Linked DNA regions of Homo sapiens: region 2 is linked to region 1. A link means that fine-mapping ties the variant in region 1 to the expression of a gene that starts in the linked region. Tissue or cell type: whole blood. Region 1 holds a variant in brackets; the other region holds the start of a gene. All regions are shown on one strand. Distances are between the middles of the regions. Region 1 overlaps EDEM1 (ER degradation enhancing alpha-mannosidase like protein 1). Region 2 holds the start of EDEM1 (ER degradation enhancing alpha-mannosidase like protein 1).

The links.
Region 2: it holds the start of EDEM1, and the variant in region 1 is fine-mapped to the expression of EDEM1 in whole blood (INTERVAL, PIP above 0.99).

What each region holds. Positions count from the first base shown.
Region 1 is chr3:5,212,768-5,222,707 of GRCh38, forward strand. It overlaps EDEM1 (ER degradation enhancing alpha-mannosidase like protein 1), which reads left to right. Exons shown (of 12, transcript NM_014674.3): 11 at 552-755; 12 at 3,062-7,191. The coding sequence ends at 3,151. Among named protein-coding and RNA genes, the nearest start is that of EDEM1, 30 kb to the left of the region's middle. RefSeq lists enhancers at 617-1,118, 9,551-9,940. The variant G/A (reference allele first, on the strand shown) is at 5,847.
Region 2 is chr3:5,182,815-5,193,995 of GRCh38, forward strand. EDEM1 (ER degradation enhancing alpha-mannosidase like protein 1) reads left to right here and starts at 4,893. Exons shown (of 12, transcript NM_014674.3): 1 at 4,893-5,500. The coding sequence starts at 4,992. RefSeq lists enhancers at 3,351-3,410, 5,832-5,881 and silencers at 4,522-4,931, 5,172-5,341, 5,392-5,681, 6,879-6,998.

The sequences.
Region 1 (9,940 bases):
CATTGAGGGAAAGGACTGTGCCTTGTGTCCATTGCGTCTTCAGAGCCCAACCCTTGTTGTGCAAGAAGTGAAGTGAATGTTGGCAGATGTGTTGGGCTCTGTGCTAGGCCCTGGGGAAATGGTGGTGGATAAAACTTGGTCCCTCCCTGTCAGCATTTACAGTTCAGGGTCTAGGTGTGTGTGAGGTTGGGTGTAGTTCTAGAATTCCAGCAGGAGAACTCTTAGGTAGCACATGGAAATCATCCAGTGAACTTTTATAGACTACCTGTGCTTGGGCCTTAGTTTCAGAATTTCTGAGTCTCTGCGTCTGGGCAGGGTATGTGTAGGGGAGAGGCAGGTCTGGGCATCTGAGTTTAGATGAAGCAGGTGATTCTGCCTTGCAGCCTGGGTTGGGCACCACAGTTGTCAGTCAATTCCTTTTCACCCAGTTGTCACTGAGAAGCATGAGGCCCAAGCAAATTCTACTCCCTGAGTAGCTGGGACACGCCCCCATGATTCAGTTCCCAGTGTGCTACAATTATTGGTTGTATCTTTTTCTCCGTTCCCTCTAGCTGTTTGATGAAGACAATCCAGTACACAAGTCTGGAACCAGATACATGTTCACAACAGAGGGACACATTGTATCTGTGGATGAGCATCTTCGGGAATTGCCATGGAAGGAATTCTTCTCTGAAGAGGGAGGGCAGGACCAAGGGGGAAAGTCTGTGCACAGGCCGAAACCTCATGAGTTAAAAGTCATCAACTCCAGCTCCAACGTGAGTTGCTTTTTCCAGGGGTGATTTGCATATAGAGGAAGAGAAGATACTATGAATTGCTTAGTTGTTCAGACTTCCTGACAGAAAATTGATGGTGTATGCAGATTGGGAGATTTGAAAACACCTCCTAAAGACACCATTTACATAGCTGTTGTCAGGGTATAGGGAAACCGCAGGAGCAGCGGTGGCATCATCACTGCTGGCTGCAGGTGCTGGTGGGGAGAGTGGCTACAGGATCCTGGAAGGGGGGAGCCTTGTGGGAGGAGCGAGCACTCAGCAGGAGCCACGGCTCAGATCTGACTTTCAAGGCCTTGCCTGGAGGGAGCCGGCAGAGTCAACATGTGACCCCTCCCCGCTCCCCCAGTTGCCTGCTGGAGCATCTTCTTGGCTGCCTGGGGCAGAAGCTGGAGGCCGAGGGAGCCTGTTGATATGATCCATCAGTGGACCTGGAGGGGCAAATGGAAGACATTCAGCAAAATCATTTACCAGCAGCAGAAGGGAAAAAAAGCAGTGATGGTCACGATGGTCCCAATGAAGATGCTCTTCGAAGTGCAGCAAACACCCACATTCATTTAAAGTGGGGCTTTACTCCACATGCCTAGATTGTCCTGAGAAGCAGCAGGAAAAATTTGGAAATGGAAGTCCTTGCATCCCTAGTGAAAGTATCAGGTAGTTGTGTTGATTTGAATCAAATAGGATGATTTGGAAGTGAGGATAGGGAAATGTAGGTCAGTCAAAATTTCAAATCTTGTTATCCCCCAGGGCCTTGGTGGTCAGGAGTTCGGCAGCCTCCCCACAGATGGGTTGCCTTGGCATTAGGGGTGCCCTCTCATCGCCGACTGTGCTTCAGTGCTTTTCCGTTAATGCCCCAGTGAAGGTCTTCACCATCAGTCTATGAAGTAAATCGATAGGCCAGAGTGTAGATAACCACCCCCGCCCCCATTTCCATCAGTCATGGAGCGCTGATTGAGTGGACAAAGCATAATCGGGAGGAAGGGGAAGGAGGGTGAGAGGGGGAAGAGTTAATAACAGCCAGCATTTGCAAACACATACCAGGGTTAGCCTTTGCACCATTCTAAACGCTTACGTACATTAATCTGTTTACTTCTAACAACAGCCCTGTGAGGGGTGGTTACTTTTAACATCTCCATTTTACAGCTGAAGAAAGGGAGGCACAGAGAGGTTCAGGTCCCACAGTGGAGCCAGGATTTGGACCCAGGCAGTGTCTTCTCTTTTAGGAAGGAGACATCTCTGACCTGCCATACTCACTAATAGATCTGATCCCATGATTCCAGGCACCAGGGATTCAGGCCCTCAGAAGGGCTCCCGGTTCTGGATAGGAGCATGGCCTAGTGGGGAATCCACTTCCATCCTAGGCGTTTGTCTGTAGTGCTGTTGAAACACAGAGGGTAGGGAGTAATCTCCAGAGAAAATCAAGGCAGGATTCCCTGAGGAGGTCACTTGCTGGAGATCCTTGAAGGATGAAAAGGGGTATCCCAGAAAGGGTGTTCAGGCAGAAGCAGTAGCACCTGCAAAAGCACAGAGATGTGGGCTGGTGGGGGCAGTCGGGACCAATGGAAGGACCGGCCAGTCTTGATCTTGCCAGGGATGAGGAGCAGGGTGTAGTAAGTTCAACTTACTACAAAGCGTGGGGAAAATGTTTCTTTGGAGATGAAGCAGATAATGAATGTATTTAGACAACTGCTTCCAGGGATGTCACAGTTGGTTAGTTCTCAAGATGTGCATCTGCTTTGAGGAAAAAAAGTGGTGGGGGTGGGGGGGTTTTAATTAAAGAAATAGTCTTAAGCATTTAGAGTTTAGTGAGTTGTGAATGAGAAAAACATAGCTCAGAAAAACACAGTATTTTCAAGTAGCAGAAATGTTTTCTGAAATTCTGGGCGGACTAAGGACCCCAGGGATGTGGCTTTCAGTCCTGGCCACGAAGCAGTTGCTGCGATGCCTTTTAGCTTCCCTGGATCTGCCATTTCTTTATAAAGTGAGTGAGGATGTTAAATTATGTCACTGGTCTTCACCTGAGGGTGATTTTGCTCCTCAGGGAACATTGGAACAGCGTCTGGAGACGTTTTTGATTTTCACAGCTGAGGCGTAGGAGTTGCCACTGGCACCTAGTGGGAGAGGCAAGGGGTGCTGCTGACCGTCCTGCAGTGTACAGGCAGCTTCCACAACAGTTACTTCCAAACGTCAGTAGTTCACAGGCTGAGAAACCCTGGATTAAGTCATCCAGTCACATTTCCTGAGAGAGCAACATATGAGTTTTTAATTTTCCCTCGTTTTTGTCTTTCTAGTGCAATCGTGTACCTGATGAGAGGAGGTACTCCCTGCCCTTAAAGAGCATCTACATGCGACAGATTGACCAGATGGTTGGTTTGATTTGATCTGCTCTCTGTGAGGCCTCATCTTGAACCAGACCTTAACGACCAAACCCAGACCATGCCAAAGTCCAGTCTGAAATGAAAGGGGACAGAAGTCTTGCTGTCCATGGTGGTGTAGGAATTTCTGTGCAACACCTCACCACGTCTGGTTAATCCTTGCACACTTCAGTGTTTCTCTCCTGTTCAATAAAATGCCCTGTTAAGGATATAATTTGAAGTGAGAAGATACATGGAAATTGCCCTCTTATGACATGTTGATGTTATAAGCACAATAGATGGGGCATCTTTGGATTGATGTTCACAGCTTTATACTTCAGAACCTAAGTCTCTTCACTTTGCTGGCACCTGCTATACTGGAGTATTGCTATGTCTTTAAAAAATTTTTTTTATTATATTTTATTTTTTTGAGACAGGGTCTTGATATTTTTTTGGGACAGGGTTACCTGGGCTCAAGTGATCCTTCTGCCTCAGCCTCCCGAGTAGCTGGGATTACAGGTGAGCACCACTGTACCTGGCTAGCTACTTCTTTGTTAGAGGATTGAGAATGAAATTTCTGCAAAAGGGCCCATGGTTCATTTGGTATCCCTATTTAATTGCATTGAAAATGTCATCCTTTCTGTTGTTAGATAATTGGGGTCTTCCCCTGATATCCAACCGTGATTTTGGATCACATGGGAGAAAAAGTCATCCAGTTTTTCATGTTTGCCTCAAGTAATCTTTACAGTGTTACAAATTATTTGCTTAAGAAGAATGGTCTTAACCAGAATTCTTAACAGATAGTCTCTTAGGTTATTATGTTATGGTCTAAGAGGTTAACTGACATCTTTTGGGTGGTATTTTGCATTTTGAATATGAACTTACCTGAGGAACTCCCATAGTTCCAGAATCAGGTGCCTTTTAGGGAGAGAACAATACCTAAGATTGTCTGAGCTTCCATCTTTCTCATATTTCCTAAGCAAGGATTCTCACTTCTGACCATATTTGGGTTAGAGTTCTGTTTTGTTTCTGTTTTCTGTGTCTAGTGCCAATTAGCTAAATCAGGGAGAAAGAAATGATCACATGACTTTTAGCATCCTTGAGCCATTTCTCTGTGTAATACAGGCTTTAGATTAGTGCCTTATATTGGTTTTGGTTTGGGGCACTGGATGTCGCAGCTACTGCTATGGTTTCAGGAGGCCTGTTTAGCCACATGGTGAGACCGTGGTGAAAGGGGGATGGAAATTGCTTGGCCAGTCTTTGCCTTTCATCCTGTAAAAGTAAGCATGTAGAAGGAGGAAGTTGTGCTAAAATGCCTTTGTTTTTTTGTTATTATTTTCTTAGCCAGAACATCTCTCTTTGAACTCACACTGATACACACCTGCTACTCTTACACAGTGCAGCAGGGTTGACTCTTAGTCTGGCTTCCATGAAGCGTCATGGGTGGAAACGCATTCTAGTAAAAAAGGTAGGAAATCCCTAAAACTTCCAGCCTCACATAGCACGGTTCTCACCTGTCACTGTTTTCCCACCTCTAAGGATTTCATGTACATCTTTTCAAAGCTAGAAATAAGCACTGTCTAAGTTTATGTTGCATTTTTAGTCAAAAGGGAGAAATCTTATTCCTTCTTGAAAATTTTAAGTGTTATGGTTTTATATAGTTCAGTTCTTTGAGATTTTTGAAAAGAGTATTTTCAGTAATAAACGTGCCATCTCTATCTCTTAAACATTTATTACAACAATTGTTTTAAAATAGAAAAAATAAAATGCTTCTATTTTACCTTTTTTCATTTCAGAAGCATTATTCTGTTTATTAACAGTGTCCCATCTACTGAATAGAAAACTTTGAGAATAATATATATATATATTTTAAATGTTTTCACTGACTCATTGAAAATGTTAATTACACACACATGCATGCATGCACACACGAGCATACTTGTACCTTTGTCTCTGGGCAAACAGGTGGGACTGTTAGTGACCCATTTGGGAAAATAGAGCATCTCAGAGAAGGAGGTGAGTTCTTCCTGCCTGTGATTTCTCTTGGCGCTCCCCTCCTCTCCCGCTCTGGCTTCTGTGGCGGCAGTGGTGGGTAAGCACTCCAGTGTTCTCTTAATGAGGCACTTTGCCTGTCACTCGAGCAAGCCTGGGTGTTCCTTCCTCCTCATGCTCCTGGAATAGGGAATAGGGATCTCATGCTTGCAAACTACACAATGCTGCAGGTGCTTCCCAGGGGCCACAGGCTGTCAGGAAACGTGTTTTATGTTAAGTCACAAACCCACTTGACTTCTGGGTACTGGAATTAATACCAGTGGGTGAGACTGAGGGTGAGTGAGTTAGTACATATTAATCCTGGTTGTTGAGCTTCCAGACTACCCCGTCCAAAGTTTGATGCTATGTAGTCAGTGGTTTGTGGGGCTGGATGCCAGAAGGTTCTTTGAGCCAGTTTCAAAGGTTACTTGTTTTTTTTTTTTTTTTTTAAAGTCAGAATGTTAACAGCTGTGATATATCCTGCAGGGCTTTTGCAGTTTCTTCTGTTCTGTGTTCTGAAATACTGGGTAGAGAATGGCTGAGGAGGAGATTACCAGAGAAGTTGCTTTGCTCAGTGCTTTGCCCCAGGATTGCCTCAAATCTGAGTGGACTTCATCCTTTGCGGCGGCTCTGAGCCTGGCCCATCTTCCTATTCCCACGTGTAGCTAGTGTCTAGTGTCAGCTTTGCTCA[G/A]TGTGGTGGAAACATTTTGCAGAACTGTTGTAGAAAGCTGCCTTATAGTTGGCTTGACAAAGCATAATTCTCTCATAACAAACTTTCAAATCATTACAGTAGCTTAGCTACTTTAGTTGATGTGACCGAGGAATCCCTTCTAGAATCATAGGTGGCAAGGGAGGGTTTGCTAGCTCTCCATTTGCACTGGCCATTGTGAAAAACCAGCTTCTGTATTCAAATCTTTCCTTCATTTTTTTAAATTTTTTTTTTGGCAGCGCTTGTGCTGGAACTTACTCATTGTAACTGAATCCTCAGGGCTTTTCTTGTTTTAGATCATGGACTGTGCACGTGACACTTAAATAATTTTCTATGTATTTAAAGAAAAATGCACCAGGATGGTGTCTGTGCACGTGACTATTAGAGGAGCGTCTGTAGAAGTACCTGGTTTGGTCAGTGCAGTTGTGCAATCTGAGGGCCTTGTTTCCTCCTCCCCTTTCCCCTTCTCCCCACCAAAGGAAAATATCCCTCTTAATGATTTCGTAGTTCAGTTTACTGAATGATTACCACCTGTAATTCCTCTTTGGATTGTGTAGACTCAACATGAGACATTCCTTTCTGCTTTCTGGAGGGCACCAGGGGCCTTTCTCTTTGATAAATTTTTTTTGTCTGTTGACAAAAACAAAAATCTTTTTTCAAATGTAGTGCTGGTGAAAAGGTAGGGCTGAGTGATTACCTTAGCCACAGGGTGGCTGAGCAGGAACTTTAGAAGAAAATCCTGAGCTTTCCTGTCCATTCCCAGCATCCAGCTCCTATTCTAGTGCCTCTTCCCTGCAGGGCAGGGACCCCTTGGGAAATCGAGGAGGTGGGACGGGCTGGGCCCTGTGTCCCAGGTTTCACAGGGCTCAGGGTTATGCTCCCGCTTGAATCTGGACGTGAATCTGGTAAAAATATCAAGTACCTGTGGAACTCCCTGATTCTATACCCTCTTCCTTCTTTCTGCAAGGCAGAGGAATAATATTTTTAAAGGTTATTTTGTTTTAGTTTTAAATAGCAAAACACAAGCTGCATTTTTATTTATTTTGCATAAGAAAGGTAAATCTTTTTACAAAAAAAAGTATAGAGTTGGAAACTCTGGGAAAACTTACGGAAATACACAAATGCTTCTCTGTAATGTGCAATATGCTTTGCAACTGTAGATGATATTTTATGTTTAATCTGTAAATAAGAAATGTATTTAAATTAAAAGGGATCTTTTTGTAAAAGGACCAAATGTTCTTTTATAAATGTAATAAGGAATATCTTGCTCTTTAAAATTTATTAGGATTTTTATGAGTAATTTTTATTAAAAGATTTCTTTTTTTGAGTTGTCATCTTGTTTCTTTTTTACATTCTCATGTACATTACATTACATGCAAGACAAATGGGAGAAAAGTCTCTAAAGGAAGTGCCCATCTAGATGAATAAAACCTTGCTTTTTATAGCTAAGCCCTAAGTAATACCTCCCCCATGGAATTCCACTACATTTTTGTATGTCACACTCTTCCATTAAATGCCCCTCACATGCAGGTCAGAACTGCTTTTCATGACTTTTGTCCCAGCCCTGGCCTTCCCCTCTGCATCAGCCTCCTTTCTCTTGGCCACTGAGTTCATTGTCTATTCTTATTGCCAATTAGCTGAGTGTATCTGGGATCTAAAACCAGTTCTCTGCGTTATCTAAGCAAGGCGCTTCATTTCTCCTCACCTCTGAGAGCAGTGGCACTTCACGGTCTGTGTGGGTGCAGAGGCCCATGGGAAGCGTGTGGGTAGAGGGTTCTGGAGGGCTGGCCTCCCTCCCTGTGTGTTGCCACTGGGGACCATGGTGGGATCCTGAGGAAGGGACCTGCTCCTGCTTTGTGACATCTGTGTCCCAGCTTTGGTCACAGACAATTTTGATACGGGTTTTTTTTTTTTTTTATTTGAGACAGAGTCTCACTCAGTCACCCAGGCTGGAGTGCAGTGGCACGATCTCGGCTCACTGCAACCTCTGCCTCCTGGGTTCAACTGATTCTCCTGTCTCAGCCTCCCTGAGTAGCTGGGACTACAGGCACGTGTCACGACACCAGGCTCATTTTTGTATTTTTAGTAGCGACGGGGTTTCACCATGTTGGCCAGGCTGGTGTCAAACACCTCACCTCAGGTGATCTGCCCATCTTGGCCTCCCAAAGTGCTGGGGTTACAGGCATGAGCCACCACGCCTGATGGGCCTTTTTAAAGGCCACGAAGCATGACAGGGCGAAGGAGAGACTCTCAAGGCTGGAAACACCTTGCCCACATTGAGCTCTACTATTGTGAGGGGTGGTGGGGTTGTGTTTGTCAAGTCTTGTGGGTTTGTGATCTTGACAAAACCAAGCAAGTCCAGTGGGCCAAGGGACCAAATCAAGAGCCACAGGGTTCTTGCCTTCCTGCCTTTCCCACTCCAGGCTGCCTCAGTAGTGGGAGCACCAGGCCCTTTGCCATCTGTGGAGCAAGTGGAGCCCAGCAGTCCTGTATGAACGCTGTAGTCAGTGTCGGGTGGAGTATGGGGACTCTGGGCCACACGGTGCTGGGTACAATTCCAACTCTACCCCTAACTTAGCTGTGTGCCTTGGGCAAGTTACAGACTTGATGGCCTCAGTTTTCCTGTCTAGTAAATGGGTTGATAATAATAGCCCATACTCAGGATAGTTGTGAGGACTGGGTGGATTCATATGTGTAAGGCACTTAACGTGTTTCCTATAATTATGGTCCAGCTGGATTTGACATCCAGGATCAGACCTAGGGCTTAAACAGGGATGCTGGAGGAAGAGTAAGAACATGGCTGGCCATGGGGAGGCTGGGCTGGCCTCCTGGCTTTGTCCTGGATGTGTGGCTTGGGTCAAGGCACTCACCTTCACACGGTGTCCTCACTTTTAAAATCAGAGATGATAGCACATCAACTCCTAGGGTTCCCGTGATGGCAAAATGAATTAGAAGCTACATTTGTCAGCGTGTGAGGCGGCAGCTGCTAAAATGTTTACAGGTTATGTCTCTTTGTCCCTTAAAGTTTTTTTTTCCTTCTTTAATCAAGGAAGTATGCTAATGTCTTCCTAACTCAGAAACCCAGACCAGGAGGTGCAGAGTGGTTGGGTGTGGTGGTACCTGTGCCCCAGCACACCTGGTCTTTGTGCTTAAGCGTCTGGCCCAGTCTGCTAGTCAGTGGCCTAAAGAATGAACAGTCCCTCCCCACTCTGGCTCTGTGTGTGTGTGTGTGTGTGTGTGTGTGTGTGTGTCTGTCTATGTGCTTGTGTGCACTCACGTGCATGTGTGTATGGTTTAAAAGCCTGTTACATTCAAACCTCACCCAAGTCCTGAGCGGTAAATTCTATGATTCCATTTCTCCAGCAGAGAACCCTGGAAAGTAAACAATCTTGCTTCCTGTCACAGCGGAACCCACTGGAAGCAACAGCCTGACGCTCTCTTTTAGATGCCGTCAACCTTAAATGATGAAATTCAGAAAATATGATGAAGTATATTAGATATATGATTAAGAGTTTATTAGATCCCAAAGCCGGGAATAACCGGTTACCCAGGGAACACAGACTCCAGAAAAATGGGGTCAATGCTCCCAAGTTAGAAGTTAAGGTCTTGCTTACATAGGTAGAAGACAAAGATATCTAGTAGGATTAAAACATATTCCGTACGAGGATGGTTTACGAGTTAACAACAGTTTTGTTACAGTTTTGTTTATTTTCTGTACAGCTTGTTTTCATGTCCTTTCCAATTTAAGAGTCCATTTAACATTCCTTCTTGAGACAGTGTGATAGTCATGAGGTCTTTGTGTGAGAAAGGGAAGAGGGAAGTTAATCTATAGTGAAGATCAACAGTGAAGAAGGAAGGAGTCTTCCCTGGTGCCCTTTAGTCACTTCTTACAAAGCAATGTAGGTAAGGAAGAAGGCTAATCTATAGTCAGAAAAATAAAGGTTACAGATGCCTGAACTCAGGTCCCATAATCACATTTCCTTAAGGCTTGAAATATTTAAAAGTTCCAACAGCTTAAATTTGAATTACTTATTTTCACGGTGCCATTGTGAATGGTTTGGTTCTAGCCCCCGTAT
Region 2 (11,181 bases), 29 kb before region 1:
AGAAAAGTGTATATACCTACTACCAATTTGAGGGTAGGTGGTTTAGAGCTAAGGTTTAATCCTTTATAACTGCTGTGTTGCTGGGTTTTTGGGGGTTTTTTTGTTTGTTTGTTTTGAGATGGAGTCTCACTCTGTTGCCCAGGCTGGAGTGCAGTGGCGCCATCTCAGCTCACTGCAAGCTCCGCCTCTCGGGTTCCCGCCATTCTCCTGCCTCAGCCTCCCGAGTAGCTGGGACTGTAGGCGCCCGCCGCCACGCCTGGCTAATTTTTTAATATTTTTAGTAGGGACGGGGTTTCACCATGGTCTCGATCTCCTGACCTTGTGATCCGCCCACCTCAGCTTCCCAGAGTGCTGGGATTACAGGTATGAGCCACCATGCCCGGCCAGCTAGGTTCTGCTAGAATTTATCCAGAGCTTTGGAGAAACCTGGAATGGTTAGAAAATACTACTCTTAAAAGTAAAGGGGCTGGAGGACCAACAAAACCATTGTATCCCCTTTTGGACTTGGGAAGTAGAACATTAACCACTTGCTAATTATAGCATCTCCCTTAACCAATTCTTATCTACAATTGTGACTTACCCTCAGTGTTGTACAATGTGTATCACACAATGTGCTAGCTTGTTTCTGTGGCTTAAGAGAATTCACCATTTCTATCTACTACCCAATAGGTGAATTAGATAACTCTTCCATTTGTATATTTTATTCTGTAAGAAAAATTCAAATTGCTCTTATTTGTCATACTATTAGCTAATTTATAAGCGCTAGCCCTCATTCAAAGAAGGGTTAAGGATTTATAGAATTCCTATATTCTCTGGAAGCATCAGTAACCTAAAGGCTAGAGCATGGTATGGGCATGTGCATGATGAATATTTTTGATGTATAGTTCATATATTTGTTTCAGTGGTTTGGTGTTAGAACTGCTAGAAGGGAATCTCACTATCTTTTCTTCCTTTTTGAGATAGTCTTGCTCTGTCATCAGGCTGGAGTTCAGTGGCGCAATCTCGACTCACTGCAACGTCCGCCTCCTGGGTTCAAGCAATTCTCCTACCTCAGCCTCCCAAGTAGCTGGGACTACGGGCATGTGCCACTATGCCAAGCTGATTTTTGTAGTTTTAGTGCAGATGGGGTTTCACCATGTTGGCCAGGCTAGTCTTGAACTCTGACCTCAAGTGATCCACCCGCCTCAGCCTCCCAAAGTGCTGGGATTACCGGCGTGAGCCACCGCGCCTGGCGACTTGTGCTAACGTTAAACCAAAATTATGGGGGGTCATTGTTTGTGGACTGAGTTTCTGCACTAGGTCCTAGCAGACCAAAGTAGTTACATATATTAAGTGCCACACAGTTACATGGAAACTTTACAGACCAGTTTTTCCTGAAAACAGAAAATCCCAGTCTGTCTGAATCAGAATAATAAGGAAGTCCCTTCTTCTTTAACCCTTAAAAAAAAAGTAACCCGATGTTAACCAATCAGTTATTTTTCATTGTTTTGTTTCCTTGCTCTCATCTTACAAAACCCACTATTCTGCTGTTTCTCATTGGGAGCTTTCATTCTGTTTTGTAGAATGGAGGCTGCCCCATTCATAAGTTATGAATAAACGCCAGTTAGATCTGTAAGTAAATTTGTTGTAATTTTTTTCTGACACTAGGAATTGCCAAATGACCCTTCACACGGGAAGTACTAGTTTTTGTTTTTACCAGTCCCAGTCCCCTATGCCTTTTTAAAAAAGAGATGAAGTCTCACTGTTACCCAGGTAATTGCATTGGCTATTTACAGCCACGATCATAGGAAACGCAGCTTCAAACTACTGGCTCAGGGGATCTTCCTGCCTCAGCCTCTCGAGTATCCTGTATCTTGCTAACAGAGCATGTTGACAAACTTGGATTTGTGCCCATCAAATAAGTTTGAACTGTAATTATATACTTTTTTTTAGGCCTTCAGCTTTGCAAAACCTCTGCTTTTGAAATACTTTTTTTTTTTTGAGACGCAGTCTCACTCTCTTGCCCAGAATGGAGTGTGGTGGCGCTATCTCAGCTCACTGCAACCTCTGCCTCCTGGATTCAAGTGATTCTCGTGCCTCAGCCTCCTGAGTATCTGGGATTACAGACGCCCACCACCACGCCCGGGTAGTTGTATTTTTAGTAGAGATGGGGTTTCATCATTTTGGCCAGGTTGGTCTTGAACTCCGGACCTTAAGTGATCTGCCTGCCTTGGCCTCCCAAAGTTCTGGGATTACAGGTGTGAGCCACCACGCCCAGCCGGGTGCTAGTTTTAAAAGTTTCAGAGTTGAAAAGTATTAATAGGTCTCACTATGTAGCACGGTTGTAAGTACTTTATATATATATATGATGTAATCACAACTGTGATAAACATTGTCCTCATCACTCACCCATTTTATGGATGAGGAAACAAGTCCTAGAAAAGTAACTTCCCAAGGTCACTCTTAGGGCAGAGCTACGATTTGAACACCTGACTTCTGAATGTGAGTTCTTAGTTGTCATCTCTTTGCATTCCCCAGAGTAAAGCCATTTTTACACTGAAAAAGTGCCTCCTTTCCTTTTTTATCAGTCCCTGATGCGCTTGTGAGATTACCGGAAAACCTGTCACAAATCAAACTGTTTATCTTAAAGAGTTGATTTTCAAGACTGGAGTTTTCTGATTGGGTATGGGTGTTGTCCCAATCTTATCAGTACATTTAGCTTAAGGAGAGTCCTAATCGAAAGGACTAGCACAAAATAACCCATTTCTTTCATTTCAGTTTCATTCCAGAAGGAAACACTTTCTGAACCTAGACCCTAATGCCTAGGCTATGCCTTGCAGGGCACTAATGTCAAAACTATTGCTTTTGGGTGGCTTGGAAAGAGCAGAGGGACCTGTCTGCTCAAGGGCCAGCTATTTGAAGTGCAAATTGCCCTAAAGTGTAGTAACTCCCTTTCTGCCTAGAGCCAACAGGCTCTGAGAATTGAGCCCCCAACCTGATTTCTTCCATTATGGCTTGTGGAATAAGCTTTACAGTTTTCTATGAAGATTAAATAAGCACACATGTCAAAGTGTTTTGAAAACCATCAGTTTTACTATGAAAAGCATCTTTCAGGAGTTGGATGGTTTTCTCTGGTTATTAAAAGATTTATTTTTATAAGAGTTTTTCTCTAACATCAAGACAGAAGCTGTCCTCAATGTGGCCTGCAGTTAACCAGGTCAAATTTAAGTTAAAATTTGCAATAAAGTAGCCCCGGAAGGAAACATGCAACATGCAACTGAATATTCACATTCAGTTTGCAAGTTCCAGGAAGGCAGAAGTTCAGGATCAAGGGCTGGAGCTGGGCTGCCAGCACAGTCCCTAGGCATCCTTCACAGAGGGGAAAAAGCAGAAGCTGTGTAGTCTAAAGACCCTGGCTCAAGCTGTCTTCGTAATCTTTTTGCTGCTTGGGCTGCTCTCGATGTCTCAATGTTGGGAAAGAACAAGGCTCAGCCAACAGTAAGGACCTTCCTATGTGCCAGCTACCATGTGCTGTAATCAAGTGTTTTCTTAGTTCCCCTTACACCTCCTCTGTATTTCAGAAAGTCCTCTACCCTGAAAATGTGATGAGAGTGCCACATGACAACTTACCTTCTTATGCACTCCATTGGTCGGCCATTCAGCCAATATCAGATTTGGGGGTCTAGTCAGGTCTTGCTTCCCAAGCTTTTCAGAAACCCTGATGAAACAGGCATAGGGTCTAAACTTAGGGAGGGCAAAACTTACAGCCAACTCCAAATGCAGCAAGCAAAATAAATAAGCGCCTAAACCATTGAATCTTTATGTGAAAGCCATAGCCCTTTAGAGCTAACATTTGCAATCTTCTTAATTATAGGAAGTAGATACAGAGGGGTAAAGTTATTTAACTGGGAATCTACCCCACACCTCAAAGGTTAGGTCACTAATTGCGGGTGCACAGGAGAGATGGTAGGATGGGAGGGACAGGAGAAGACATGTTTAGATATATCTGGTAAATAATTTGGTGGTGGTGGGAGCCTTCATTCCCACCCCCAACCCGCCCCCCCCTTTTAAAAAAATCCTATTTCCGAGACAAAAGCAATATAACATAACTTTGTATTTCCTGAAACTTCCAGTTTCTAAGAACTGTCCAAGAGTACTTACACGCACATTCCCGAGACCGTTGGAGTTGTTCGATAGGTCTAGGGAGGGATCTGGGGATACGTGTTTTACAAGCACCATGAGCGATTCTTCAAAGTTGGGTGTTTGAATCAAAAGAGCAGAATTCATGATACCGTTTTGTGCACTCCTTGAGCTAAAAGGTAGTATCCCACCCTCTCCATAAACAGACACCTAAGTTATAAAACTTATGCGCTCGATATGCAAAAATAGCTCGTTTTATACAGAAACGATCCTTTCCTTCTTTTCCTTATATATCTTTTAACTGTCATCACTCCTAACCTAGACCTAGAGTGGCTTTTTCCGGTCCTAGCTCTGCCGGACACACGCTCTGCCCAGAGACCCGATCCACCCAAGGCCAGGCGGTCTGGGGTCACGTCTGTGTCCAGCGTCCGGCGGGCGCTGCCGTGCCGCTCTCCCATTGGCTGGAAGTTCCCTCGCGGGCCGGCGCGGCTCCTGCTCGCCACGCCAGCCCATCGGGCTACGGACCGCCCAGGGGGGCGGGGCTTGGGAGTTGGGGCGGGGCCCGGGTGAGGGGCGGGGCCTCGGGGCGTCGCGGACGTCCTGGCGGCCTACTGCGTGGGAGGGAGTCCTGGGCCGCGCCCCGCGAGGCCGGGCCCAGGCCGGGCCAATCCCGGGCCACTGGGCGGGCGACCGTGGGGCCTGGCCGGCCCGCCGGAGAGCCTGGGGGTTGGGGACGATGGGCTAGTTCCTGGTGCGTCACGGGGGAGTTCCTTAAAGGGGAAGCGAGCCGGGCTACGGGGCGAGCGCGGGGTGCGGTGGTCGGCGGGGAGGCCCCCGCGCTTTAAAATAATGCCCGCGGCGCCCGCGCGACCATGCAATGGCGAGCGCTCGTCCTGGGGCTGGTGCTCCTCCGGCTTGGCCTCCATGGAGTATTGTGGCTCGTCTTCGGGCTGGGGCCCAGCATGGGCTTCTACCAGCGCTTTCCGCTCAGCTTCGGCTTCCAGCGTCTGAGGAGCCCCGACGGCCCCGCGTCGCCCACCTCGGGGCCCGTGGGCCGGCCTGGGGGGGTATCCGGGCCGTCGTGGCTGCAGCCGCCGGGGACCGGGGCAGCGCAGAGCCCGCGCAAGGCTCCGCGGCGTCCTGGGCCGGGGATGTGCGGCCCAGCCAACTGGGGCTACGTGCTGGGCGGCCGGGGCCGCGGCCCGGACGAGTACGAGAAGCGCTACAGCGGCGCCTTCCCTCCGCAGCTGCGTGCCCAGATGCGCGACCTGGCACGGGGCATGTTCGTCTTTGGCTACGACAACTACATGGCTCACGCCTTCCCCCAGGACGAGCTCAACCCCATCCACTGCCGCGGCCGTGGGCCCGACCGCGGGGACCCGTGAGTAGCCCCCGCCGCCCGGGGCCGCGCGCCCACGCGCTTCCTTCCGCCCTCCGCGCCGGGGTGCAGCCCTCTGTCCTCCGGGGCCCCCGAGGGCGCCAGGGCCGTTAGGGTCCCGGGCAGCGCTCCCGCGCCCTGTCCCGTGTGAGTCCCTGTGAAGACCCCCGAGCTTGAGGGTGCGGGGTGGGCCGGTGGCCTTCCTCTCCTGATTCTCCCGGAATCTCCAAACTTCAGAACTGCTGTCCAGCTCAGTGTCTTACGCGTGAGGATACTGAGGTCCAGGACCAGAAGGGACAGTGGCAGTGCCAAGGGCTGGCTTGGAGGGCTTTCCACTTCCATCCGACCCCTTCCTCCGGATGAGCATAAACTCTAAATGAAATCTCCATCATGCCCCCCGTGTAAACGCAGCCTCAGAACAAGCCTTTACCTCGCACCCCCACCTCTATCACATTGCCACACCCACGTCTTTTCTATGTAAAAAGCCTATAGTTGACTTCTCCAAAGCCGTCCATTGAGTTTGAGGCAGAACGGGGTTACAGCCTCTCCTTCACAGGGGCTGCTTCTTAGGCTGAGGATAGTTAGGTGGTGGGGAGGGAAGCTATGTGGCCCACTTTTGGGGTCCAGATACTTGAGGTGAAATTCACTGGATGCCAGATTGACTGTCAACGTCATCGCCCTGTACGATCTGTCTATAAATCCCCCGCCTCTGGTGGCGTGGTTGTCCGGGAAGGTCAGGCAGTCTTCCCTGTTCACCAGCCTTGTTTGCAAAGGCTGAGCTCCAAGGGTCACCACTGTTGACATCAAAGTCCAAGAGGGCAGTACACCCAGCTAAGGACCTCTTACCTGTAGGGAAGGAATGTGCATTGCCATAGACCCTGTTAGTCCAAATAGTTGACTCCCCTCCCCTGGATGGGAGTGGAGGAGTTGGTTTGCTCAGTGTCTTGGCACCGTCTGGGGCAAGCATTTTCCTTCACCTGGAGGAAAGCAGTGGAGTCCAGTCCTTAGGTTCTGATAAGGAAGCCTATAGACTAAACGGAGTTGGGTTTTTAAAATGGTGTGGTTATTTACACATTTATGTTTTAAATTGCAGTTTGAGAGCATGATTTCTACCGAAGCAAGGGGACATCCCAAGCTAAATTCAAAGGACTGAGCCTTTTCAAAATTCTAGGAAACCGATGAGTTTTTCTTGCTTAACCATAGCGTTTATACGTATAAGTGTATTTTCTATCTCAATTTTTTTGAGAAAAAATATTAAATTTTGAAAAAAAAGTATTTGGCCTTTCCAGATTTTTTGTTTGTTTTTTGAGACGGAGTCTCGCTTTGTCGCCCAGGCTGGAGTGCAGTGGCGCGATCTCCGCTCACTGCAACCTCCGCCTCTGTGGTTAAAGTGATTCTCCTGCCTCAGCCTCCCGAGTAGCTGGGACTACAGACTCGTGCCACCACGCCCGGCTAATTTTTTGTATTTTTAGTAGAGACGGGGTTTCACCGTATTAGCCAGGATGGTCTCATCTCCTGACCTCGTGATCCACCCGCCTGGGCCTCCCAAAGTGCTGGGATTACAGGCGTGAGCCACCGCTCCCGGCCATGGTCTTTCCAGATTTTAAGAAATGAATGAATTATTTGGCTCACTTAACTAGAGGGGACTTTATACCTATAAATGTATTTTCTTTCTTAGTTTTTTTTTTGGGGGGGGGGATAAACTTCATTTAATTGTGGTCTTTTTTTTGTTGTCAGCCTACATCATGCTTTGATGTTTTTTCTTTTTAAATCAACATCATTAAAGTTTGAAAAATATCATAAAATCCCACCAGCTATTTTAAATTTATTTTTGCCACTAGTTCCTACCCATATGTCTATGCATGTTTTACATAGTTGCAATCATAGTATGTGTACATATTTTGGATCTTAATTTGTGCTTTTCCACTAGTGCTCTTGGTATTACAAGAAGGGAGAGAGCACTTCCAATAAGTGCCTTTATTCCTGCTCACAGACTGTTTCTCAGATTACCTTTTATCAGGTGGACTGAAGTTGAAAACAGTTTAACGGGGAATTGTGATAACACTTTCATTTGAGAATATGACGGTTTGGAGAGTGAGTTGATGACATTTTAATGTTTTTCTTAATGAACCTTAAAAGCGCTTCTGGAGAACCTTAAGAATCCCTTCCCAGCAAAGTGAGGTGGTGGTTGATTTAACTTGCTGGTCTTTGTGGTATCATGTGTGCTGTTGGCCTTTATTTCAGGATGAAGGCTGCCGATGAGTGTTTTGGTTTGGTTATGCATTGGTTTGGTTATGCGTAAGTTAAGGTCAGGTTGCTTTGAGACAGATGTGTTATTGGAAAGAGGGTTTTAGAAGTATTGAGGAGGTGGGGATGGCATTAGGGAAGGGTTGTGCCCTGAGCTGGGTAGGCCCGTTGGTTGGTAAACCTTTGTTGTCTTTGAGGAGGCCAAAGAAGCCTTGCATGGACGCCTCACACTTGCCACTTACAAACAGTGGAAAACTTAATTTTTTGTACTCTCCTTCCTTTAACTCCTCTCAGGCTTTGCTTTTTTTTAAATATTTTTTAAAAAAATTTATTTTTAATTTTTGAGGATACACAGTAGGTGTATATATTTATAGGGTACATGAGATATTTTGGCACAGGCATGCAATTTGTAATAATCACATCATGGAAAATTGGGTATCCAACCCCTCAAGCATTTTTCTTTTGTGTTACAAACAATCCAATTATACTTTTAGTTATTTTAAAATGTACAGTTAAATTATTATTGACTGTAGTCCTCCTGTTATGCTATCGAATACTAGGCCTTGAGGAAAGTTTAAAACCAGAGTATTGTCATGCTGGCTTTGAAACAGGAGGGTACTTCACATCCCCAAACTAAATAATCTGTAATAAAAATTTTTCATATTTTTTGTTTGTTTGTTTAATTGACAGGGTATTGTTCTGTCACCCAGGCTGGAGTGCAGTGGCATAATCATTGCTCACTGCAGCCTTGAACTCCTGGGCTCAAGCAGTCCTCCTGCCTCAGCCTCCCGAATAGCTGGGACTAGAGGTGTGCCCCACCATGCTCGGCTAATTTTTTTTTTTTTTAATTTTTCTGTAGAAGTGGGGTCTTACTTTGTTGCCCAGGATGGTCTCAAACCCCTGGCCTCAAGCAGTCTTCCCGCCTTGGCCTCCCAAAGTGCTGAGATTATAGGTGTGAGCCACCAAGCCCAGCCAAAAATCTTTCAGATTTTAAAAAATCAAATGTATTCTAATGACTCATTTAACAAGAGTGAATTTGCCATTAGAGTATTATATAAAAAGTACACATAGAAAATTTCGGTGCTAAACACTCTTACCGTTTCTCTGTAGTCATATATGCTCCAAACTTATCTTGCCTCAAGTACATGTGACTTGTTCTTGGGGAGGTATCAGGTAAGGAGTTAACATGAAGTGAATAAAACCTGAACACTCTAAAAAGAGCAGATCTGTCTAAGATAACTATGCAAAGTCAGTTCTCACATCCTTAATTTGGGTTGGAGGATCCAAATTTAAAGTTTCTTTGAGTAAATGTGGATATTATATTTTTGTAATCCTGTGAATGGTTAACTGTAGTTCTGGCTTTTGGGCATGTGACCATTCTCAATTTCTTCTCAACTGTATTGCTATTAAAACAACAAAACAAATCTCAAATTAAGCCAAACAAATATTGGCCCCTCAAATGCTTAGGTACTACTAGCTCAAGATGGCCTCCTCTGCATTCCTCTTTCTTTGGAAAGTCCTGCCCTCTTTCAGAGTCAGGCTCCTCTTGTTTCCGTGACACCATCTAACTGTTTGAAGATGATTTTCCTTTATTTGCTCAGTTCTTCTTTTGATTCCTTTCCTTTGAGCTGCGATTCTACATTTTAACCTTATTTGAGGATTGAGTACTGTTGTGTATTCACCTGCATTTCCCTTTGTCTTGTCTCTCCAGATTATCAATCCCTTGAACGCAGGGACTGTTTCTTATGTTATCTCTGTGCCTACACCACACCAGGTAGATTTCTGAACAGCTGTTACAGGTTAAGTATACATGGGAATTTAAATTTAAAAACACATATGTTTGATTTTGTTAGCTACATAATCAAAAATTTTCTATCAAAGGCCATGGTTTTCTCCATCTTTTCTGTTTTGAGGTGAACTTTAAAAATTTACAGTGGGGTGAATGCCATGAACATTTGTACCTGGTGAAGTAAGTGGAGCGTTTAGTTGTGCGGTTCAGCCAGCTGGTTACAGGGAAAGGTATTGAGTTCTTGCTGGATGAACTTAAAGGTATCAGGTTAGGCTGGAGATTGACAAGAATATCTACAAAGAACAAATCCAGAGTCTGAGCTGCATAGTGGGCTGGCATAAATGGAGTCATAATAATTTCATGCTGTTAGGCCAGTAGAGTTTTATGGTGTTTTTTTTTCTTCCTTCATCCTCACTCCCACTTCCCCCTTATTTTGGCACCTTTTGAAAGAGGATGTAGCAATTATTTGGTAAGAAAGAATTAAAAGTGTTCTAATGAGTAAATACCCCAGATCTTAGAGAGGATTTGTCTGACTAGAGTGGAGAGAAGAAACCCCACAGTTACTGCAAGTAATTTTTTTTTTTTTTTTTACTGTGGCAGCTCATTAATTTTTAGTGACTGGGCATTGTAAAAAATATTTTAAAACTGGGTCTATTTTAGTTATAGATTACAAGGCAAAGCACAATAAAACATAGAAAGGAGTTCAGTGCTCACAGTGAGTACCTTCCTTCCATGGGCCTGTGCAGGTGGATAGAATGACACATGCCGCAGATCTGGGTGTGACTCAGGAGAGGGGAGTTACATGTGGTTCTCCTGATTACCATCTAGCTTGGATGCTACATGATGAGGGAGCTGTTTTCTGATGAGGTGGGCTGTTGAAGCCCACTCTGTTTCTAAGCGGCAGAGCAACAGAGTGAAATATTTACACAGAGCAGAACATTCTTGAGTTGGCAGAATTGGGCGTAAGGATCTCCCTGTCTCCTTTGAGCCCCTCCTGCAACCCTTGCACTTTTTGTACCTTTTTTGGCTGTCACTTGCGCTTGAGAGGCATATTTGAATCCATAGCTCTTGCTTTGAGGGGACCTTTTGCTATTGTATAAGTTTATTTCCAGAAAATCAACAAATAGAAAAAACAGGTACAATTTTCCAGCCAAGCAGTTTTCTGACTTCCCAGCTTATAGGAAATGAGCTAGCCCTAGTTCCTAGACTATAGCCCCCATATATATCTCGTTTCAAAAAAACAGTATCTAAAATTTTTTTTTTTTTTGAGACAGAGTTTCGCTCTTGTTGCCCAGGCTGGAGTGCAATGGCATGATCTCGGCTCACCGCAACCTCCGCCTCCTGAGTTCAAGTAATTCTTCTGCCTCAGCCTCCCTAGTAGCTGGGATTACAGGCGCCTGCCACCACGCCCAGCTAATTTTTGTATTTTTAGTAGAGACAGGGTCTTGCCATGTTGGCCAGGCTGGTCTTGAACTCCTGACCTTGGATGATCCACCCACCTCGGCCTCCCAAAGTGCTGGGATTACAGGCGTGAGCCACCGCACCCAGCCTAAAATTTTACTATAAATTCTTTGCTTTAGATTAGATGGTGTAACAGCATAAAACAAGGCAACTGGAGGGTTCAAATAAAATGAGACATTGGAGCTGT